Regions from separate parts of the Homo sapiens genome. Here all the other regions are linked to region 1. The links come from fine-mapping of genetic effects on gene expression. A gene starts in region 1. Each other region holds a variant in brackets. All regions are shown on one strand. Distances are between the middles of the regions.

Evidence for each region. PIP is the estimated chance that this variant, and not a neighbour inherited with it, causes the effect.
Region 2: its variant is fine-mapped to the expression of SLC1A3 in whole blood (TOPMed, PIP above 0.99).
Region 3: its variant is fine-mapped to the expression of SLC1A3 in whole blood (TOPMed, PIP 0.99).

What each region holds. Positions count from the first base shown.
Region 1 is chr5:36,601,858-36,610,137 of GRCh38, forward strand. SLC1A3 (solute carrier family 1 member 3) reads left to right here and starts at 4,749. Exons shown (of 10, transcript NM_004172.5): 1 at 4,749-4,878; 2 at 6,472-6,747. The coding sequence starts at 6,567. RefSeq lists an enhancer at 4,856-4,955.
Region 2 is chr5:36,681,598-36,689,877 of GRCh38, forward strand. It overlaps SLC1A3 (solute carrier family 1 member 3), which reads left to right. Exons shown (of 10, transcript NM_004172.5): 9 at 2,267-2,401; 10 at 4,468-6,737. The coding sequence ends at 4,672. The region is part of intron 1 of SLC1A3-AS1 (SLC1A3 antisense RNA 1); the gene reads right to left. Among named protein-coding and RNA genes, the nearest start is that of SLC1A3-AS1, 39 kb to the right of the region's middle. RefSeq lists an enhancer at 7,813-8,042. The variant T/G (reference allele first, on the strand shown) is at 4,099.
Region 3 is chr5:36,627,692-36,635,691 of GRCh38, forward strand. It overlaps SLC1A3 (solute carrier family 1 member 3), which reads left to right. Exons shown (of 10, transcript NM_004172.5): 3 at 1,759-1,896. Among named protein-coding and RNA genes, the nearest start is that of SLC1A3, 25 kb to the left of the region's middle. The variant T/C (reference allele first, on the strand shown) is at 3,698.

The DNA of each region.
Region 1 (8,280 bases):
GGACTGATGAACCCTCTTGTGTTTGTGACTGTGTTGCATCTGTTTATTGGTGCAGCAACTCTTTTCTGAGCACCTTCCGTTCTGGTTCCTAAGTATGCAGTAGTTATCCATACAGGCCCTGCCCTCAAAGACCCTGCAGTCTAGACAGGGAGAATTGCAGCACAAAGTGGTAATGACTCTGGAGATTTAAACCCAGGGGGCCTTGGGAGCACATAGGAAAGGCAACCAAGCCCGTTGGATTTGGGGAGTGGGAGGAGATTAGAGTTGACTCCCCAGAAGAAATAACAGATTGTAGGCCTTCCTTTTAATGTTCTTTCCTTTCTTTTCTATCTGTCTTTAAAAAAACTCCTGGGGGCTTCTTTTGGGAAAAGATGAGAAATCAACATGAAGAACTCTTGTCTTAGCGCTGACTATGATCCCCAGCATATTACTCAATCCCTACTGATCTCCAACATCTGGGTCTACAGGACCAGTAATAATAGAGTAGAATAGACCTCAAAGTATTATCACGAAGATTAAATTAGATAATGTGTGTAGAAGTACTTAAAAAACTATAAAGCCCTGTAAACATGTCTGCTGAAGGCTTCAATTCCAATCAACCTACATAATCTTTTCCAGCTAAACGGATATTCTTGGTTCTACAAAGTCTTGACTCATGTTGAGCAACTGGGGAAAATGTCACTTTTCAATATAAATAATAATTGATAACAATAACATGTGTGAAGCCTTCATTAAAAAGCAGACCCTCTTTAGCTTTAGAATGGAGAAAACATGTTGTTTTTTAAGGCATCATTATGTCCACCTGTTGGATCACTTGTGAGAAAAATAACAGTTGGTGTAATTTCTTGCCACGTGGGAATCTATTTGGGGGGGTTCCTCTTGCTGGTCTTCACCTTTGTGTTGGTGTTCCCTAGGCTTCTGCCCTTGCTCAGTCCTCTTCTGAAACCCCATCAGAGGTCAAAACAGAAGAACTTGCTAGAGCCACATGCTGATAACTAACTTGAGTGAAGTGAGCAGGACAAGTGGGCTGGAGAGTGCACACTCCACCTACAGGAGGCAGCCTTGGCTCAGTGTCAGCCGACCCCTTCAAGGGCCTTGATATTCTCAAATGGTCAGTATTTTTCAGTGTGAATGTGAACTCACCTAGTTTGTAAATGCTCCTCCTGCCCCTTGACTTCCTAACCCAAGTCTTAGTCACTTCAAGGCTTTGCATTTTACCTAAAACGAAAATTACTTCCCTGCTTAAATCCTGTGGCTGGCTCCCCATTGACTAGGAGTGGAGTTCAAGTTGTAAATTCGGCCCCTACTGGCCTGTTCTCCAGCAGGAACCACTACTGGCTCCCTGCCATGCCACACGATGGCTGCTATGGGCAGGCACCTGCTAGAAACAGTGTACACAATGTGGATCCAGGCACAGCCCCTTCTCTTAAGTTGCTACCAGTCTTTTTGACATACTAACTGGTAAATAGGCCTCAGCACACAGCGATCTCATAACCTTCTGTTGGGCCCTGTCCTGGCCCACTGCTTAATAATTACGATGCGTTTATGGACTCCTTGAGGAAAGAAACTGGTATTTGGAACACAGTGGTTGCTCAATGTTTGTTGAAAGAATAAATGAATGTGATAAAGTTAATTTTAGTTCACCTCTCTGTAGTTGGATGTTTTTAGGTTTCATATGACTATAACTTTAAAATAAAACCTAGTTATTTAAAAATTCAACTAACCAGACTTCACCACAGGTTTTTTTGTTGTTCTGCTTTTTACATTCATATTTAAGAAGAAAAAAAAATCAAAACAAAATGGAAGACAACTACCACAAGTTCTTCTACACCTACTGCCTCTAACACATCCACTGTTACACTCTGGGGTTAAGTCAGGTCCTGTTCATTGTCTTAGCATTCTACAATTTCCAAATTCTAGGAGGAGAATTGACATTCATGATGATCCTAAAATGCAAGCTATTTAAACAAGGAATGATTTTAAAACCATCATTAAATTAAAAATCAACTTGGAAAATATTGAAAAAAGATTAAAAGGTTTTCTAATCCATTTTGTTGCTCAAAAAAAAATCCAATTAACCAAAATTTCCTAATTTTGAATGGTGAAGTTTGACTGGCCTGTACCATGCTAAGATCAGCACGTGCTTATTACCGTAATCTCTTGTTCTTCAAACCAATAAATGCTCCCTTTAAGGACAGGTTGGATTTGGTTATTTCTTGTTATACTGACATTTTTTCCCAAAGAAAGAATTTACTGATAACATACTTCATCACACAATGTTCACAGAAAGATCTTGACAGATTTTTTCAGCAGGAACAGCATTTGCTGCTGGTGTTTGTGTTTTTTTCATTTGATAATACTAACATTAATATGATCCCCCAGCTTCTGTGTCTCCCACCCTGAGTAGCTTTAAATGAAATACAGCATACAGAGACTTGTTCATAATTTCTTGATCTTTCATTTATTTAGTGTTTCTAGAAGGAAAAAAAAAGATGTTTTAAAGCTCAAGGGACTTAACTATAAAGTAGAGGGGAAAAGGTAGAAATACGCGTTGAGGAAACCCAGGAGGCCCCCAGGCATGACTTTTGCTATAGCTTTCCAGAAAGAGAAAGTGGTGCTTAAAGAAGTAATTCCCAATGTTTCCCTCCAGACTAAAATTGGATGAACTCTGAACTGAGACTCTTTGCATCTCATTTTCTCATTAGGTTTTATTACAGCCAACAAAACTTTCAGTGGTGAATTACTTCCCTTCTCAACAGAATACCAGACTCCCATAATGTCTACACAAACTGAAATAATGAAATGGTTTTTAACCAAGCTTTAGGGATTAGAGAGGAAAAAAAAAGTGAAAAAGAAAGGGCACCAGGGTCTTCCCATCTCTATGCTAACCAAAGTGTGGTTTTCCAGCCCTTTTTCTTGCCTATTAACAAAAATAAAAACAAAAAATGGAAATGCCACTGGGCTTGAAACCCCATTTAAAATCAGATTTCTCTTTCGAGTTCCCTTGCAATACAAGTCAAAGTCATTTCCACCAAAAAAAAAAAGCGGTGGGGGGGGGGGGTGTGCAAATTAATCCTAAACTCATGGCTCAGATAGGACCTGGTATAGTAAATAAATGCTTTTAAAAGTAGTCATGGCATTGAGAAATGGCTCCATGCACCTAAACCAGAGGCACCAATGTAAAAACTAGTAATTGTGTTTTAACACAAAAGATTGAAAAGCGTTTTGTTTCACATCCTAATATTATTCCACCCACTTAAAAAGAGTTACTTAATATTGACTCTGTATTAGGTATAAGACAAGTTCTTGCCCTCAAAGAACTTATAATTTAGTTGAGAAACCAAAACTTAACATGAGCTTAAAAAGAAGGATGCAGTACAAAACATGGTATAATTAAGTGCTAAACAATGTAGTATAGATGCTCAGTGACCTAGGAGATCAGAGGAAGGGAAGGGTCACTGAGGGCTGGGAATGTCAAAAGCATGTACTTTCAGTAAGTTCTTAAAATGATAGCATGTTAGAAAGCTGTTATAATTGCTGCTGATTTGTAATTTTAAAGCATTGACATGATTCACCATTGCTTTCCAACCAGTAGCTGTTTAAAAGGACATACAGTTGAGGGTGAAAGGAGATATTTCTTTATGATCTCCAGAGATTTGTATTGAGGGGAAAAAAGACATACTTTCTTGTTGAATAATAGACCAAGAATTGAGCATATTTTGCATGGGGAATATTAAATTCAGTGAACAAGAATCCAAACCTCAGGCTGTGATTCTGGTATAAATTTTTGTTTCTAATGAACCATTTTCTTCCTTCTAAAGAAGATTTAAGTTTTGGGAATAAGTCACCTCAAAAAAATTTTTTTTTATTTTCTAATATCTATTTTCACAATTTATTTTTCTTTTAAGAAAAGTGGACTAGAAGCTCAAGTTACCTTCTCAAGGCAATGAGAATTTTTTAGCTCTAAAAAAGTTGTGTGTGGTAGGGAGAACATTTAGCATCCTTTAAAATGGAGACATCTGAACAGCAACCTATCTTTTGAATCACCAAATCTCAAGTGTACTTTGCACTCTTGGTCTTAAAATGCTTTTCATTTTCTAGTTTGGCAAAAATTCCAGTCTCTTTACATTTGCTACCTTTTCCGTCTTTGCAACACAGGCAGTGTGAGCTAAATTAGGTTTGTTAAAATGAAGTTTTGAAGTTTCAACTGCTGAAATAGAGGCATGTCCCTAACTTTAGACAAATTTAGAGAATCGTAGTAAGCATTATTTTTTTTCTACATACTTGTCTGCATTCAGTGTCTTCCCAAGAAACGTCAGTTAATTCCCCGATTCGAAAAAGGAACTTTCTCGTAACAGTTGTACAACCAGGCTAAAGAGCACACCCTCGTCTTCCCTGAAAGGGAGGAAACATGCAATAATGTGAGGTAATTAAATTTAGCCTTAGAAAAGTCTTTGAAACGTTCTAATCAAGACTTTCAGCTTTCCGATTGTGTGCGCTTTATTTTTCAATTCTTCCTAGTCCCGGTTTTGCATTTCTAATGACAGTGAACTGACAAAGCGTGAAAGTGGTCTAAGGAGCAAAACAAAGCCAGCAAGCCTGCTTCTGGTGTGCCAAGATTAATCAATATTCCAGAAACCTCGGGGTTTCCCCCTCCTCCCTGTGCGGTTTCCATTCCCCACTCCTCCTTTCCCGGGCACAGACTCCTCCCCTTTTCTTAAGTTGCCCTGATAGTAACTTGCAGTTTCAGAGCACATGCACACTGTCAGGGCTAGCCTGCCTGCTTACGCGCGCTGCGGATTGTTGCTCCGTTGTACCTGCTGGGGAATTCACCTCGTTACTGCTTGATATCTTCCACCCCTTACAAAATCAGAAAAGGTAAGTGTCACATTCTGTGTTCCTGCTGGGTTTAATTTCTCCTTTCACTTCTCTGCCGATGTATTTTGCCTTCCAAGCAGAGGAGTAGCCTGAATCAAGGCTAGCCATTTTGGTAGATAAAGTCCTTGTTAGTCATCTCACGTCGTGAGAGTGTGGTGTCTGTTTATGCCGGGTCCGCTGTTAATTCGGAGTTGAGTCATTCGGGGTGGATTGGGGGCAGATTGTGGCGCGAGATCTAGAAAAGGATCAAGGTTGAGCGGATCTGCTTAAAAGTGACTGGTAAGAGGAATCAGAGCTATTAGTTTAAAAAAAAAAAAAATCTGGTCTCTCCTATTTCCCGGTCTTCACTTCTCCCTAAGCATTTAATCCAGTGTGAAGTCTTAAACAAATTAGAAGTCTTAGTATCACTGACCCCAACTTGCAATTTTATTTAAAAGGCAAACTGTTAAGACAAGTCTTTTTTTTTCCTGCACTGGGATTGCGAGAAGTCATTTGCGAGGAGTCCTTTGGTTTCCAGTTACCTCCCCCACAGGCGCACACGCTGGCTGCTTGCGTTGGCAGCGACACACATCCATGGTACGGCTGGTTTTCACTCGGATTGATTATGGGAAGGGCTATGGATTAGAGCTCCTGTAAAGCACCAGGAGGAATCCCTTGATTTTTCAGAACAGCTGATTTCCACCAGGAAAGAGATTTACTGAAATGTAGTTAAATAGCGTGAGTGCTTTAAAGAAACCAGAAACCACAAGCTGTAATGTTTGGAATGAAAATTGGTTTCATCTCATCTGTTCTAGAAATCCTAAATTTTAAAACGCTAAAAAGTCAGCGATAGTTTCCTCGGAAGATTCCAGCATGTGTGTCACAAAGAAAAACACTACTTCATACTTCTACTTGTGATAAACGAAGCTGAATTGTGATTTCAGATGATTTATAGATGTGCCCAGAGCACTTTGCTTATTTCATGGAAAAAAAATGAAAAAATTACCCTGTAAAATAGTCACATGTATTTCCCATGTACTGTGGGCACTTGTGTTCTTTTTATGACCATATTTACTAGTAGATATTATTATATTTTTTTCTTAATGAAGAAAATAGCTGGTTACTTTACTGCATGTAACAGAGACAACTCCCACCTATCAGTATCTTAATTATTTTTATTGACCTGGTTATGCTTTCAACCATGTATACAGCATAATTTGTCAAGTAATGATTGAATACTTTCTGTGCATTCAGTTCAATTGGACATTTACTGATTGTGTACGTTGTGCAAGGCATCAGCTGGGTTCTGCGGGGGAGGGTGGGAATAGGGGTTCTCAGTCAGATCTAGCTCTGAAGAACCCTTTTATAGCCTCATTGGAAGGGGAAGGACGGATTTTTAAAAAGAAAATAGAATATATTCCGAATTTATGCACATTTCTCACACGTGGTCCACTAAAATATGCACACTGCAACCTTGAGGTCTGGTATTGTGGCTCTCCAGTCCTTGATTCCTGCTGAGATTATGCAATTTGCCAAGAGCTTGCCTGGTGTGGAGCAGCACTGATTTCTCACCCCTGGAGGCTATAACTCATGTCTCTTTTTCTCCCATTCTAGTTGTGTTTTCTAATACCAAAGAGGAGGTTTGGCTTTCTGTGGGTGATTCCCAGACACTGAAGTGCAAAGAAGAGACCCTCCTAGAAAAGTAAAATATGACTAAAAGCAATGGAGAAGAGCCCAAGATGGGGGGCAGGATGGAGAGATTCCAGCAGGGAGTCCGTAAACGCACACTTTTGGCCAAGAAGAAAGTGCAGAACATTACAAAGGAGGATGTTAAAAGTTACCTGTTTCGGAATGCTTTTGTGCTGCTCACAGTCACCGCTGTCATTGTGGGTGAGTCATTTGATTAAAAACAAAAAAACCTGTATCTTGTTTCTCTGGGGCATCTGGCTGCCCGGGGAATATTATCAGATGAACTAGTTGTAGGTATCAAAATGGTAGCCTAGGCTTTCCTCTGAACTTGATGATTTTTCTCCATAAAAATGACTGTTTTGGCTTGTTTGGAGCAATATATAGTAAACACATCATTAGGCATCATTAGGCATTATGCAAATCAATTGTGTGAGGAAGAAAAATAAATAAAATATTTTCCCATTTCATGTAAGGATAAGGAAGTGATCATTTAATCATTAGGCATGACAAAGCAAGCATGCTAGATTTGGCCAAAATGTAATTATATACAATGTCAGTTGCACTTAAAACTAATTTATACAATTAGTACACCTAAAATGACATGTTGGTTCCAAATAGTAATTATATTCTAACTGGTGCTGACTTGAAGCTGAGTATCAACGCTTAGGCACAGAGACCGAATATTTTATGTGTTTGCACTCTCTCACCCAGCAACTGGGAAAGGTAGATTGGGGAAAATGTTAACACAGATCTCTTTCATTCATTGCTTTGCAGAGCCTGCCATAACCAGCTATACCTTTTTTTGAATCATTTCCATCTCTTACTAATTTAGCAGGGTTGACAGCAATCTGTACTAATAAAATATTATTGTTTTGTTTTGTTTATTGATCTTAAAAGTTATAGTTTATTACTTATGGGTGGCATTGATCCTACTTTAAAATATAGCTGAAAAAACCTACTTATTTGGAATTTTTGACCAAACCAATACAGAAATCCTTAGATTGACAAACATATACGCCAATGCCAGGTTGTAAAAATATTCCAACTTAACCTACCAATTTGCCACCAAAAAAGAGGCATTCAGTACCGTTTTAATCTCTACTTTGGAGTTTGCCAAGATTTCCATCAACTTTAAAGAGGTAATGATTTAATAAAGATTAAGAAAATTCTGTAGTGTGTAAATATAACTTTTTTCAAGAAAATTGAATTCTTAAATTGTAGACAAATGAAGTATAGCAGGAGAGTTTGTCACAAGATTTTAGATACATCCCATTTTAACATCATTGTCTTCCATTAGTAATCACTGGTGATTAATGATGGTTCAATTAATTTAGAGATATTCAAAGAGAACATGTCCTAACTGACCCAGAGAAGTAATGGCTTTCCACAGTAGGTTTCCAGGCTTGAATATATTCCTGGGTGAAATATTTCAGTCCCACATCATTGTCCTGGAAGTCAATGCAAAATACAGTCTGCTTGCCTCATTTGTCACTCTGAATCAAAGTCATTGCCAAGCCAAGCAATAGCTGCATAATAATAATTGCAAACATTTATATAGTACTATTCCAGCTACTCTGTAGGAGTTTTGTTTATATTAGCTCACTTAATCCTCAAACAAGCCTATGAAGCGAGTGAGAAGGTATGATTACTATGATCTTCCTCATTTTGTAGATGAAACTGACTGTGGAGAGATCAAGCAATTTGCCCAAAGTGACAACACTAGTAAACTCTAGA
Region 2 (8,280 bases), 80 kb after region 1:
CCATCTCTTAGTTTCCTTCTGCAGAGGCAACCAGTGTTACCTGCAAGTTTCTTCTGCATCCTTCCAGAGATACGCCAGGCATACGCATGTGCATGTGCAAATATAATCCCTCCTTTTTGCTTATTAAAAGTTATTTTGCACAAGGGACCCATGAGTCTAATGGCAATGGGACACTTTAAGCCTCACTATCCAGATCAGCCTCTGCTCTTCATTGTTGTGGGGTTTTTTTTAAATTGTTATTAAAAGTACATTTTGGAGAGCAAACTAAGTCAGATTTGGGGGGATTTTTATCACTCAACATTTTGTTGTGAAATGCCCTACATATAGGGAAGTTGAAACAATATTATACCAACCATCCTCTACCAGATGGAAAAATTGCAAACGTTTTGCCATTTTTGCTTCTTCTTTCTCTTTCTCTGCCATTATGACATTTCACCTGTACAAAATTCAGCATGCATCTCCTAAGAATAAGGATATTTTTCTACATAACCACAATAGTAAGAATCTTAAACATACTTCCAGAATATCCAATCTATATTCAAATTTCCACAGTTGTCCCCCAAAACATGTCTTTTACAGATTTTACTTCCAGACCAAGTTCAAATCCACATTTATGGCCTACATTTGGTGTCTTAGTTTCTTTTCATCTAATCAGTCACCACACATTTGTTGTTATGTTTATTTAGAAATAAGTTGTTAGACTCTGTGTATATGTTTTGTGTTAGTAGAAAATGATAATAGTTGTAGTAGGATGCATCGGAGTAAAAAGGAAAAGGCTGATCAGGGCCAGAGGTCAATGACTGACCTGGGGGTTCTGGGAACCTCAGGCCCAAAGTAGTTATAATGGGACTTAGGAGATCATTATCTCAGCTCACCTGTAACCTATACTTTGGCATATTGATTGAAAGGCTCTGGGTTATTAAAAAAAAAAGGTGACAGAGTTAAAAATAACAGTAACAGTGACAAGCAAGATAGAAATATATTTCTCTTTCATGCAGCACAGCTCTGCTCCACAAAGCCTTCAAGGCTGATTGATAGGTGCTCTGTGGTATAAGAGACTAAGTCTCTAGGGTATTATCATTATCCAGGTGGTCCGGGATGACTCACCACCCCCAGATTTTAGTCAGTCGGAAGTGGGGAGATGGTATACCCTGCAAGTTGCTCAGTACCTCCATGCATGTCTGACTGGCCAGAACTTAATCTAAGCTTCAAGGGAGGTTGGGAAGTGTAGTCTTCATTCTGGGGAGCCATATACCAGCTAAAAGTCCCAGTATCTTAGAAGGGGACCAGTATGGGGACCATGAATACTTTCTGTGACAGACTTAATACTTTATTAATACCACTTATAACCAGATAATACTTTACTATTTATAAAACATTTGCTTTGCAAGCCAGGTCTACACTGCCTTCATAAAAAGTATTTCTAATACTATAAAACTTTGTTCATAAATCATTTTGCTTTTGAATTAACTAAGCAAACCAAACTAAGAAACCAAATTTGATTCTTTTGACAACATTAATCATGAATGTTCAGTAACTTTACAACCCTCCACTTGGATAGGGGAATTACTAGAAACAAATTATTATTGTAACTCTACAGCATTTTAGACTTTGCCTTACAAAATACTTTCAGGGATGTTTAAAAGTGTATAGCTGCCAGTTTATTTAAAAACGACTAGAATAATAGGTCCAACTTCACAAGGGTCATTGTACGAGGACCAAATTAGATAAACCATGCTTAGTATATCAGAAGACACATAGTAAGCACATGATAAATATTAGTTAGCATGATGATTAGTTCAATTTTTTTTTTTTTAATCTCATTTACGGGCCAGGCATGATGGCTCATGCCGGTAATCCCAGCACTTTGGGAGGCCAAGGTGGGTGGATCACTTGAGGTCAAGAGTTCGAGACTAACCTGGCTAACATGGTGAAATCCTGCTCTACTAAAAACACGAATATTAGTCGAGTGTGGGGGCATGAAGCTGTATTCCCAGCTACTCAGGGGACTGAGGCACGAGAATCACTTGAACCCAGGAGGAAGAGGTTTCAGTGAGCCTAGTTTGCACCACTGCACTCCAGCCTGGGCAACAGAGTGAGATACTGTTTCAAAAAAAAAAAAAATCTCATTTACGTTTTTTCTGAAGCGCGTCCTCTTGTGTTACATGGCAAGTCAGGCATCGGCACCGTGCGTATTTTGCAGCGTATATGCTCTACGTGGGGAGCTTTGTAAAAGTGTTTTCTGTTCTGGTACTTCTGTTAACAGCATCACAGCCACAGCTGCCAGTATTGGGGCAGCTGGAATTCCTCAGGCGGGCCTGGTCACTATGGTCATTGTGCTGACATCTGTCGGCCTGCCCACTGACGACATCACGCTCATCATCGCGGTGGACTGGTTCCTGTGAGTATGCTTGGCCTGCATTCCAGCTCACTGTCACAGGGTCCCCCTCTGTCACTCTAGGGCACCAGGCAGCCTGGCACATCTACAGAAAGAACTCTGAGGAGAGGGGCCTCTCGGCCCATAGTTAAATTGTCCTTATTGTCTGACCCCTGGTCCTTATCTGGAGACCGAGCCCCAGATGCCATGTGCACTCACTCCCCTGTCAGCCTAAGGGGCACATCTGGCTGCCACACATCTCACTCCATAAAGCCATTCAGGAATTGGGAAACCCGCTGTCTGCAAAGGCAACATAAATCAGCAAGGCTGTTTCTGAGTTGCACAACATGACACCACAGCAGCTGGAACAAAGCTGCAGGCCCCACATGCCAGCTTAGGCCCTGCCTCTGTGTGCTTCCCATTCCAGTGGGAATGATTTTCCCATCCTAGCCCAATAGGGTGAGGCTGAGCTATGCCGACACTGGGAAGAGAGCTAGTGTCATTAAGTGGAATTGAGTTTCGGATCTAGGGAAAGTTACAAGAAATGTGCCCTCCACATTCTCAAACTCTAACCTCTACAGGCCCATCCCTTCGCCCCCTTCCCTCGCTCTTCCAGCTGGCATTCTCTGTGCCTTTTCTCTTAAAAATTTCCTTCCACTTTTGAAAATCTTTCCCCAGGATGCCCAAAGCAAAGCCTAGAACAGAGTACGTGTTGGAGTTAACACAACATATGTTCACTAGAACTGCAACATGAAAAGAGCTTGACAGTGTGCGTGAAACCCCAGACTGGGCGAGAGGATTCACTCCCCAGTTACTTGGACCTGTGTTTGTGTCCTGACCTTGTGTGAGACCGGGCAGATTACCCAACCACCCTAGTTTCTACCTCTGTAAAATGAGGGTGCCCGTGTCCTCTACCTCCTAGGGGTACTGCAAGATTCAGTGCAATGATGCCTAGAAAGCATGCAGCCTACTGTCTGGCCCACAGTCAGCATCAGTTAACATGAGCACTCTCATATAAAGCTACAGTTCTCCACAGTCTTTGATCTTTACACTTCAAAATTATTGAGAACTGAAACAGCATTTGATCTATATGGGTTGTATCTATTCATATTTATCATATTAGACACACTTATAAATTTCCACTTGTTAATTTATTACATGTTTTATTTAAAGGTGATAATAATTCATAAAATAAAATAATGGAATGAATTTATTATCATCTTTAAACAAAAAGGTTATATATGCTAACATAAATAGCATTTTTTTGCAAAAAACAACCATTTCGACCCCAAAATTTATTTTATTTATTTACTTGTTTTGAGATGGAGTTCCATTCCTGTTGCCCAGGCTAGAGTGCAATGGCACAGTCTTGGCTCACTGCAACCTCCGCCTCCTGGGTTCAAGTGATTCTCCTGCCTCAGCCTCCTGAGTAGCTGGGATTAGAGGCGCCCGCCACCACGCCTGGCTAATTTTTGTATTTTTAGTAGAGACGGGTTTCACCATGTTGGCCAGGCTGGTCTCGAACTCCTGACCTCAGGTGAACCACCTGCCTTGGCCTCCCAAAGTGCTGAGATTACAGGTGTGAGCCACGGTGCCCGGCCTCGACCCCAATATTTAGTGAAAAGAATGGTACTATTTTATGTTTTGCAAGTTTTCTTAATGTCTGGCTTAATACAAGACAGTTGGAGTTTCCTGTTTCTGCAGTTTCACAACTGCTTCAG[T/G]GAGTTGTGACATCACACATCATGTAGTCTTTGCAAAACTCCACTATACATTCATGAGAAAATGAGACTGAGAGGGACAAATGACATCTTAGTATTATTATGAGAATGGCTTAAAGAGAAGGCTCGTTCCCCACTGTTGGGACTCTCACTTCAGTCAAACTAATAACTGAACATTCATCATCTATATGGCCTTATAACCTTTAATAGCTACTATTATGAATATTATGTGTCTATTACGTAATCTTGCAGTTGGTAGATACGGCGAACTGAATGTTAAGAGGTGCTTCGCTGGCCAGTTCCTAACGTAAGTTGAAAACTTGTGATGCTCACGGGAGCCTCGTTTTTCCCTCCTCCCCACCCTGCCTGCAGGGATCGCCTCCGGACCACCACCAACGTACTGGGAGACTCCCTGGGAGCTGGGATTGTGGAGCACTTGTCACGACATGAACTGAAGAACAGAGATGTTGAAATGGGTAACTCAGTGATTGAAGAGAATGAAATGAAGAAACCATATCAACTGATTGCACAGGACAATGAAACTGAGAAACCCATCGACAGTGAAACCAAGATGTAGACTAACATAAAGAAACACTTTCTTGAGCACCAGGTGTTAAAAACCATTATAAAATCTTTCCATCTCATTACAGCTCATTCGCTCCAGCAAGCCCGTCATCTTCCCTTTCCTCCCTTCTGATAAGACTGGAAAATAGTCCTCCAAAACACAAGGGAGGATTTTGGGTGGCCAAAGTGTACAATTTTCATCCCACAATTGAAATTTTTAAATCATTTCATGTTAGTCTTACCGAATAAGGTACCAAGATCACAAATAGTGTTGATCAGATCTTACAAGTTTATGTGGCACACAATCCTATAAATGTGATTTTTTTATATAAGTTAAAGAGACAAATAGTAGGCTAAAAACATTTTAAAATCAACTTTTGAAATTTAAAAATCTTTCAGAATACAATTCAGTTTTAGTTTCAAAATGTTAACAACTTGAATTACAACCGGTTATCAGTTGGACAGTAAGATTTTATCCCTTTCTCTTCTGACTGGTATACCTATTTCATTAGTAGCTAGGTGCACATATACATCTAGCACAGCTGTGAGGACAGACAGAAGGCAAAGTTTCCATGTGGCCTTGAGCAAGTCCCATCTCACCTCTAGGCCTCAGTGTCCTCATCTATAAAATGAGGGACTTCCCTAGAAGTCTTCATGGTCTCTTCCAGCCCAGACATCCTGTGATGTCATGAAAGCACCTGCCCTCTGTTTCCCCTCAGAACACCCTGTACCATCCATGGAGCACGAGGCCTTCAGAAAAGACACTTCAATGGGAGTGAACATTTCTAACTAAGGACAGGATGGCTGTGTGTGGTGGTCACCAGGTCCTGTGAGCAAAGTGCAGGTTATGCAAGTCGCCAGGCAGGAGGCCATTCCAGGAGTGGGATTATTCATCAAACTCTTTGCCCAGTTCATCCCAATGGGGGAAGTATTCCCTTCTTTCCTACTCTGGGAAGAATGTCTCCTGCCACTCCTCAACTGATGATAGACTTCGAAAACAGATGAGAAGACTAGCAGCTAGCAAGGGTGCTTGTGGTCACACTGTGGAACACTAAAGAGCTAGGAAAGAGTTGAGCACAGGCAACATTACAAACAAAGGATTTGAAAACACCAAGAGTACAGGTCTTCTTTAAGGAAGAATAAAAAAGAAGAGGTTCATTTTTCTGGCTTTTTTTTTCACCTGAAACACTTTTTCTCGAGTCCAAAATCATTCCCCCCGTGAAGTCTGCTTACCAAAACATAAGACGACTTATATATTTGAAAGAAGTCAAATGAATGAGCTCTCTAATAGAAGTCCATGAGTTGAGTGGGTATTTCTTATTTGAAAGTGTTTTTCTTTAATCAAAAGTCCTTAGAATGAGGGAAACAAAATATTTATTTGTTTTGGAATCCCACTTATCAAATCATTCAAAACTTTCAGCTGGAGTGGGGTTTGCTTTTGTTTTGTTTGTGTCCATAAGAGAAATGGTAGAAGATGAATCAGTATGAAGACACTGTCAATGAGGTTATGAGAAAAAAACAGCAGGGGCATTAGTTTCAGGCAAGGCAGCTCCCAGGTTTAGAGATTAATTTTTACCCCCTAAGGAATATCCAGTCAAAGACGCTGAGTGGGAGCTGTCAGGCAGTAGCAGCTGTGTTTGAGTTTCTGGCTGAAAATGGTGAAGAATGGACTTAATTATGCTAACAAACTGAAAAATCTAGACATAGATCCTCTGATATACAATTAGAGATATTTTTATATAGACCCCAAGCATTCTGTGCATAAAAGTTAACATTAGGCTGTGGTGCAGTAACCATTTAATGTCGAGGCTCTATTTCGGAAATACACTACAAATGTTAAAGTACGTGGCTGTCCTCTTAAGACACTAGTAGAGCAAAGACTTAATCATATCAACTTAATTCTGTTACACAATATGTGTTTTTTAATATACTAACCATTTCTTATGGAAAGGTCCTGTGGGGAGCCCATCCTCTCGCCAAGCCATCACAGGCTCTGCATACACATGCACTCAGTGTGGACTGGGAAGCATTACTTTGTAGATGTATTTTCAATAAAGAAAAAAATAGTTTTACATTAACATCTTTGCACGTTGTTGTTATTCTTCTCCTCAAAGAAAAATACATTTTCCATTCATGGAAATATTACAATAAGCTCAGGGCAGTCTCTGGAAGGATCCCATGCAGCAAGGTAAAATCTTGGCAGAGCCAGCCACAAGAAAATAAGTAAGGACATGCTCTCCTGCTCAACTCCAAGAACTGGAGCTGGAAACAGGAGGAGGTGAGCGGAGCACTTTGCTGTAGCAGGCCATACTTCCTTGTCCATGTCAGATTCAAATTTCTCAGATGAATTGAATCATTTCCATGTCGGGATTAGAAAAGTGTGATACCACCATGGGCCCTTCCGAAAAAGTAACTTCCTGTCTGACCTCCAAATTAGGTAGATTTATCTCTGTGATTATTACCACCATTTGTGAAAAGAGCTAACTAAGATCTCAAGGGATTTCCAGAAACAGCCATTGTGCTGGTGCTCTATTCATTAAGAACAGCTTACGGATGACTACTTTTCATCATGCTTTTTAGTAAAGAATTCGCAGGCAATATCATGAAATCTCCAGATTGAAGTAGTGTCTGGAGCCTATAATCTGACCCTCTCTACCAGCAGGTGGCAGCCACCTAGAGGAAAGGCTCTTAAGTTGGATCCATGGACCCCTAGGTCATCCACATGAGAGTTCAATAGGTTCATCGCCCTTGAAGTTGTGGGGAAAGTTTTGTGCATTTGCCTTTTTCTGGGGGTAAAATTCTTAATTTCAATCGGTTTCTCTAACAGATCTTACGACTAAAAAAAAAAAAAAATTTACAAATCGCTATGTTTGAACCATACACCCTAACTTTTGTGAAGGCATATGTGGTATTTACATGACCAGTTTGGGAAAAGAAAGGCTGCTCACAAACTGAGGGAACCAAGCCTGGCCACCCTGAGCAGATCAATATTTGCCCCCTGTGAAACGTTCTGGGAAGTGCCGCATAAAATCAATCCACTGCTAGGAAGTGCTCCCTTCTGCCGGGACCATTTTCTTCCCTTCTGCAGCCCACGCTGGGTTTTGGCCACCTCCACAATGCAGACATAAGAAGCAGGTCATCTGCCTGTGGGAGGTCTGTGGAAAGCCCCTTATGGTTAAGGGAAGTGCCTCTCAGCCAGAGTATGACAAAGAGGGTGGAGAAGCAGGCCTTAGATCCCAACATGTGGTAGTCACACATGTGCTCACAAATGGAACTATGAAAAATATGCAGGTTCACAGCTTTTTTTTTTTTTTTTAAGATACAGGGTCTCACTCTGTGATTATGGCTCACTGCAGCCTCGAACTCCTGGGCTCAAGCGATCCTCAGCCTCCCGAGTATCTAGGACCATAGGCTCACACCACCACGCCCAGGCTAATTTTTATTTTTATTTTTTGTAGAGACAGGATCTCGCTATGTTGCTCAGGCTGGTCTCAAACTCCTGGCCTCAAGCCATCCTTCTGCCTCAGCCTCCCAAAGTGCTGGGATTACAGGAGTGAGCCGCTGCACCCAGCCTCTGGCTGACATTTTTTAAAATGTTTCTTATAAGTTATTACATTTAAC
Region 3 (8,000 bases), 26 kb after region 1:
TGTATGATTTCCATGTGTTTAACTATGTATTGGAACATTCTGCAAAAGAGACACACAAAGTGGTTGCCTTTGCTCTACAGGAGAAGAGGAAACACATAAAGGGGTTAAGAACCTGGGATCTGAGTCCAAATTGTCTGTTTTTAAATCCTAGCTCTGCCACTTGAGTATATTTGACTTTAAGCAAGTTTTAAGTTCATCGTGATTAGGTTTCTCCCTCAGTAAGTTAGTGGTAAAATAGTACCCTCCTCCTGGGGTTGTTGCAAGGATTAAATTTGCTGCTAACCTAGGCAACACCCAGCATATAGCAAGAGCTCAGTAAGCATTAGTTATTTACTATTTATTTCAGTGATACAAACAATATGGGCAGGATTTTGCCCCACCTTTCTGCGTTTTCCAATTCAACTTTTCTCCTTGACCATATTACTGTTACATTGGAAAAAAGCAATAAATATTTACCTGAAGGCCCTGAGAGCTGGGTCAGCTGGATTTTTTTTAGCCACGTAGATTAAGATTCTTATTAGAATATCACAGTTTAGAGACAAAGAATGGATACTTTATGGTTGCTAAGACCCAAGAATTGAAATTGGAGTTGCAGTGACAATTCAAATGAACTTTGTGTCCCATTTCATAAGAAGTTAAGACAGTTCAGTTTCCGTAAAAGACTGCTTGCCTCCTCTAGAAAAGCTTGTGCCAACCCGGTATCATTCCCGCTTCTCCCCACCAACCCACCACCCCCAGCCTTTAGCTCCTAGTTAACTCAGTGCTGGGCATGCTGCTTTCTCTATAACTTACATGGACTTTTTTAAAAAATGGAATCACATGTTTCAGTAATAATAGCAAGGCAAAAACTTTAAAAACATTTACAACACTGGCATAAGTAAATTTTCTTTGGCAAGGAAAGTAAATTAGGTAAAGGGGAGAGGGAGTAAATTTACACTTTTATTGACACCAATACCTTTATTAATTTCTGAACATTTCAGTAGTTATCATGCATAATTTGATTTAAATGCAAATTTCTCATTCTAAAAAGATTTTAAAGTTTCAGTTGTAGAGGGAAAATTAAGGGGAAAATTGCGTTCTCTTTCCCCTATATTCTCCCACGTTTTCAGGGAAAATTTTGGGGAGAAAATCTCTGCTCATTTTGGAGTCTTCTCTTGCCAGCAACTAACAAGTCTGTACAATACAGTTACCAAGGCAATGTCAAGACCATGTAGACAGAGGGAGAAAATGTGGTGTGAAGACAGGGAGATGATGAAAATGGATTAACAATGTGAACATGAGGGGTTTTTCTAACTGGAAAAAAAAATAAAATCACACTATCCTTTAAAAGTGGTTATGTTAGCAATTCTAACATCTGTTGTTATAAAGGAACTTAATTAAAATAAAGCCTTTTTTTTCTATATCACCTGTTCGTGAATGCTTATTTGTTTCCTAATTATGCCCCAATCTTTGTAACTCTGTATTGAGCCAGGTCAGAATGAGTTCCACTGCATTCAAGTTAGACAAAGGGATTTTTTTACTTGTTGAAACTAGAAAGAGTTTTTTTCTATAAGTTCTATTGAACCACGGATTCAGCCAGACCCTCACAGATAATGACTGCAAAGATAGATACATCTCTTGCTCCCAAAGCAGCACAGATATTTGCTGCTTAAATAAATACAACCACCAGCCAAATACTTACTCATTTTGCTAGGGCTGTTCCTTCTGTTTCAAAAAAGACTCAATTTTTCTTTTTCTTTTTTTTTTTTTTTCCTTCAGGTACAATCCTTGGATTTACCCTCCGACCATACAGAATGAGCTACCGGGAAGTCAAGTACTTCTCCTTTCCTGGGGAACTTCTGATGAGGATGTTACAGATGCTGGTCTTACCACTTATCATCTCCAGTCTTGTCACAGGTACCATAAGCAGTTGTTGGTTTGTTTGGTTTTTTTTAAGTGTGTTTATTGCAAAAGATTGCTTAGAAAAGCCAGTGCTTTAGGTTTCTGCTGGATGCATGCTCTGTTCTAGAAAAAAAAAAAAAGTCCCTTCAAAATGATGGAAAGGAGGCTTTAGTAATGCATGAATGATTATAACTCTCGTATTTTACCAATCACAAGAGGAAACGAATTTAAACAGCCACGTAATCTGGTTCGCCTCACAGTGAACGAGGTGCCCTGCTAAACACCACACCATCAGCCTTCTCTGACCACAGTGATGTAGTTGACAACAGCGTACAACAGGTCTGTTTTCTCACCCTCTTATCCCACCCAGATAACATCTGGTTGGACAGCCTATTAGCTATTGATGCAAGAATGCTTGTTCTCAGAACCACCAGGACTTGAGCGGGAGCCTTCTTGGAAGCCTCATCAAGAGGTAATGCCCACAACACTCACCAACTCTGCTGCCACCAACACTTATCTTTTCCTGGTGTACCCGCATGATTTCATTTCCTTCTCCAGTTGCCTCCCACCCCCGTTACCTTTTATGCTAGTGGGAGAAGGGGGAGGGGGCGGGAGATTTTCCCATCTGAATATTTTATCAGTGGACACTTGGATTTTTAACAAGTGGAAGCTTTGCAGGATAGGATTCTATGTTCTATGACAATGAGATAACCATTTATTCCTGCATGGGAAAAGGTGAAAGAGTCATTTGTCTATGTGATTGGTGAATCAGATGGAGCCAAGAAGTTGCAGAAAAATGTTACTGTACATTCCTTCCTGCCCACTCTTCTCTTTCCCCACAGCACATCTCTGACTTGGAGAAGGAATTTCCATAGACACTGCCCGAGCAGGATGATTTCTGGGTTTGTAGGTAAAGCTCAGAACTCAGGTATTACTGACCCTATTCTCTTTTCCACCCTTGGCTCACTGTTCCCCTGTTGGGCATATACCACTCTACCTCTATGTGAGCTGGCACTGAGAATCCTTCCCATCCCAGGGAGTTCTCAAGGATATTTATACTATCCTTCAAGATCTCTGTGTAATGAGAACTTCATAGTACAACTCAAAAGTCATGGAGGAACATTCTATTACATGCCTTGGAGGGCTGGCTATTACTTAGACAGGAACTATGTCAGATTTTCCCTCAATGCCTTGCAGATCTCTGCTGGTTTCCACTTGTCCAGGGCCTTAAACAAGTGATTGCATGTACATATGCTTTCACTGGAGAATGAATTGCCCATAAAACAGTCCTGGAGTTGATTTGATGTACTTGTTTGTGAAGCTGGGATGGTCCATTGCTGACCAGGGGTAATCACAGCAGCTACAGTTCTTACCACAAAAGCTATATTCATGCTGACATGAGGGCACATGCTTATTTTATTATCCATATGCTGATATTTTTCTGGGAAACAAATTATTCACAGAAAGCACTTGTAAGACAGAACCCACATCTGACATTTTCTGTGGTAGAGCAGAGTCTCTCCTCACCATCCCTGCTGGCAGGGCATCTGGATTAAGTGCCTGCAGTTTTCCTATACACAAACCGAGGGGTTCTGGATCTTTTATACTTTCTCTTCAAGGGTGGAACCAATGTTTAGAGGTATCTGCTTTCTCTTAACTGTGCTGAAAATCCAATGTGTTACTCTTTAAAAGAGAAAAGCCCTTATATGATACAATTAGAGAAGTGTTACTTCCCCTTAGCAGCAGTCCCAGTTGATCACCACCTTGAAGTGGAATTTCCTGATTTTTCTTAATACCTAATAACAAACAACTTTAT[T/C]GAAGAAATAAGAACTTTGGTTGTGTAATTTTTCAGAAAAAAAAATACTATGATGCAATCCCTTTGCATGGCTAAAGAGAAATTTTTGGTCAAAACTTGGAAAAATTGTTAACATTTATAATATTGTTAAAGAGAAAAGAATTATAAGCTGCAAACAACTAATATAAAATGAACTTTTAAAACTGTAACCTAATTGCAAGTTGGGAGTGTTGCCAAATTGGACCATTAAGAGAGTTTTAGCTCTTGTCCAGGACTGTGCTAAGGCAAGGAGTCTGAGGGGCAGAATTTAGTTCGCCAAAGATCTTTTTAAGGTGTTAGTCTGAAGTGAGTAATTTCCAAACTACACAGTAATTTAGATATTTATGATCAAATGGAATGAATGATGGATTCAGTAAGAATGTCCTTTATGGTTTTGAATACAATAATTCTAACCCAAATGAGGGTATGACCCAGCTATAATGGGAAGGGAGGAACTTCTACAAATTACACAGACCCCTGGAGGATCCCTGTGTATACTGGGAAATGTTACTGGAGAATGTGTTGCCTAGGGAAGAAACAAAGGCAGGCTCCATTGCTTTAGAGTGGAAAGGCAACCTCAAATGCCTCCAGTGGCCACGTGGGTGATGCATGTACATGAAGCTGCCCTTTCAGGCTATTTTTTGTTTTCCTATTTTGATAGAGTCATGGATACAGAGAAATATTTCTCTTCAACAAGAGAACTAAGAGGGACAAGTATGATGATAAACGGAGAGGGACCCAACTACAGAATAATATGGCAAAAGGCAGGCAAAGAGACTATTGAGACAAGGGCCAGATCTTCCTGTTTTTCAAGAGTATCCAGAAATCTCAAATTTTTTAAGAACCTGCAGATTCTTTGATACAATTCACGAAACAAACCAGTGCAAAGCAAACGCAGTACACCCATTCCAATGTAATTCCAATGGCAGGCCCATTCCAACCCTCAGACTACCAATATTTGAACTCAGGTTTGAATGTCAGAATCCAATCATTGGCAGTCCTGTGCCAAAGCTTAACTGATAATGTGGAATTCACTACTGAACATCATGTTTACTGCTGACTAAACAAATTGCTATTGGAAAGCCTCTTCTCTCCATCTTCTGGGTATAACTGCATTGTGTAGTAGCCATTCTGGTCTTTTCTGCACCAGAAGGAACACTGGAGTAAGAACTCAGAGGTCATGCTCCCATAGGAAATATTTCCCAGTGGGGAAATACTTTATAGACTTGTTTCTCCTAAGTTCAGTTGTCCCAGGGTCTGTAGACAGAAACTGAAATGCATAAAACTATTATTGTGTTTCTTGGACTAAGCTTTTTATTGTGGAAGATTCTAGAAAACATGCTATAAGTTTAATTGTACTAAAGCCACATTTAAATTCTGAGACATCTAAGTTATATTTTTTACTTGAAACATCCGTGTTTATGAGTTGTGGCTCTATAGCCCTTGTAAGCCATGTTCCCTTTTCCCTGAATTTGAAACTCCAATCTTTCCAAACATCCCTGGTGTGTATTAGCATTCCAGAGGCTGCCAGAAAGAAGCTGGGAGGAAGCCTAATGGCTAGATTTGTACTCAAGTACCTATTTTTTGGACAAGAAGACTATGTCTGTGCCAACACACCACACAATAAAATAGGGGTTTGGTGCCAGTTTCTATCGATTTGGTCAGGATGGGCAGCCAAACTAGAAATTTCATGCCAGAAATATGAGTTGGTTTGGCTGACTTAGCCTGATTAAATTCACTGGATAATAATTAAATGTCACATCTGGTTGTGCAGGGTAGACATAACTATTACCTCCTCACTTCTGAATCTTTTCAGAAACTAGTGCTTTCTTCTTTTCTCATTCTAAGTGTGCATTCCCCCTCAATCACTTACCTCAGAAGAAATCTTTGGTGTCACCCCAGTTTTCTGGAAGTGGGGAGCACAACTTTTGACATGCAATCTCTGTGGTGTTGGGCATGATGTAAGTAAAAGAGGTGAGAGAGGAGTGTCAACACGAGTAAAAGCAACAGTGTCTGGGACGTATGGTAGGGCACCCTCGAGGCAGGATTATCAAGTAGATGAAATTTCTCATTTAACATTCATTCATTCTTTAACAGCTGTTTATTGCGCTTCTACTATGTCAGACACTGGGGATACATGAACACAAAGATACAGTCCCCAAGAAGATGTATGTTGGGTGCTGAGGAGAGAGCTTCCCTGCATCCCTTAATTCACATAATATTCCAGTTCCAACTAAAAGGAGATAAGACTCGTTCTCTGTACTCCCAACAAGAAAGTGACAAGCTGATTTTTAAGAACATGATTTCAAATCTGATTTTCATGACACAGCATCTCCATCCTAAAGTCAACTAGCCCAGAATTTTCCATCATAGGTACCATCTCAGTCTCATTTACTTAATATTTTCTTTAAACCAACATACTCTTCTTCCACAGCCTACAATCATTACCCAAAATGGAAACCTCCTATTACTTGTCATGTGAAGGAGATAAGTAACAATGTTATGAAATTGTAAATTGATGCAATTGCCTAACAAAGGCTCTGGGAGCCTGAGACCCGACTCCCCCGCTCTTGTAGTATTTTTAAATGGCTGGGCGTCGTGGCTCATGCCTGTAATCCCAGCACTTTGGGAGACTAAAGCTGGCAGATCACTTGAGGTCACATGTTCGAGACCAGCCTGGCCAACATGGTGAAACCCCATCTCTACTAAAAATACAAAAATTAGCCAGGAGTGGTGGCGTGTGCCTGTAATCCCAGCTACTCGGGAGTCTGAGGCAGGAGAATCACTTGAACCCAGGAGGCTGAGGTTACAGTGAGCCAAGATCGCGCCACTGTAGTCCAGCCTGGGTAACGGAGTGAGGCTCTGTCTCAAAAAAAGAAATATAAATAAATAAATAAATAAATAAATAGAGGGGATTAGCAAATGTTAACAAGGTGTTAAACACACATTAGTACCAAAATAAGACTTTGCCTTTCCTGTAATCCAAAGAATCAAAAGAGAATTGAAAAGAATGACTTTCTCACTGTGATTTAATATTAATTAAGGTAGGATTTCCACACCACCAGAACACCTATCCCACTTTGGAAAGCACTGATCTGGTGGTCCAGACATTCCTGCAGTGTCCCTTCCAAATGACTGTCCAGCTTCTTCCTGAACATATCTAAAGACAAGAGCTCTTTGGAACCCATTTGTCCTTAGAAAACTCTAACAATACTTTTTTTTTTATCCAAAATAAAACAAATAAATTTAAAAACCAGAAAAACAAAACACAACACCTGCCTCTCTGGTCCTCTCCTCTCCATGTGACAAGCTCTATGATGTGTCACATATTATTTGGGCAGCTTCTTTTCAAATCTATAGACCAACAACTTCAGTCAAATGTGGGACTCAATGACTGTTGAAGGCAGTGAGCTAGAATCACCAGCAAAGGGCTTTCTTAATTAAAAATAATAAATGTTGTACCTCAAAGTACGGTCCTTTGGCTTCAGAGAGATGACAGTTACAGTAAGAGTGAACTAAAGTTTTGTCATTTCGTGTAACACAAAAGGGCTAGACAATTCTTAAATCTTCGCATCTGAAGGGTTTGTCAAGGGCTTGCAAAATGAGTCGAAATCACTTAAGAGAAATTTAATATCTTAAACTATGCATTGCCATGGCTCTGGTGTATGTCTGAGGCCTGTTTGAATACTCTGAGCATTTATGGACAAGAAAAGGAGCTGTAGATTTCACCACCTGCCCCCCTCAACACCTACCCGTACGTTGTATTGAAAAAAAAAAAAAACAGTATCTAACGCAGGGAGGAATTTCTTTAGGCTTCCCTTTCATTCTCTATAAAATGTAAGTGATAAGATACCTGTGTCACAAGGTTGTTGTGAGGATTTATGCCTGGCACATAGTGTGTGCTCAATTAATGGTAGCTGTTGGCGGTAAGAGTAGCAGCAAGAGCTGTCTTCTGGCGGTTCCCATTGTATAAATGAAAATTCTAGAGCAAGAAGACAGAGCTTCAAGTCAGGGACACGGAACTAAGGCTCCAGATTTCACAAGTCTCATTTGTCTGTGATCCCTGAAGCAACCACTTTCCTATTAAGGTAAATTGAAGAAACCATAAAATTAATCCGGTAACAACATGGGAGCCAGCGAGAATTCCTACCTCATTACTGGAAGGGATAGGTTTCTGCCCTGCGGCATGGAATTCGATTACCTTATCACAGCTGCATAATTGTAAATATTTTCATTGGTTATACAACTGCTGTGTCTTTTCTGAGAAACTCAGCCCCAATGTGTA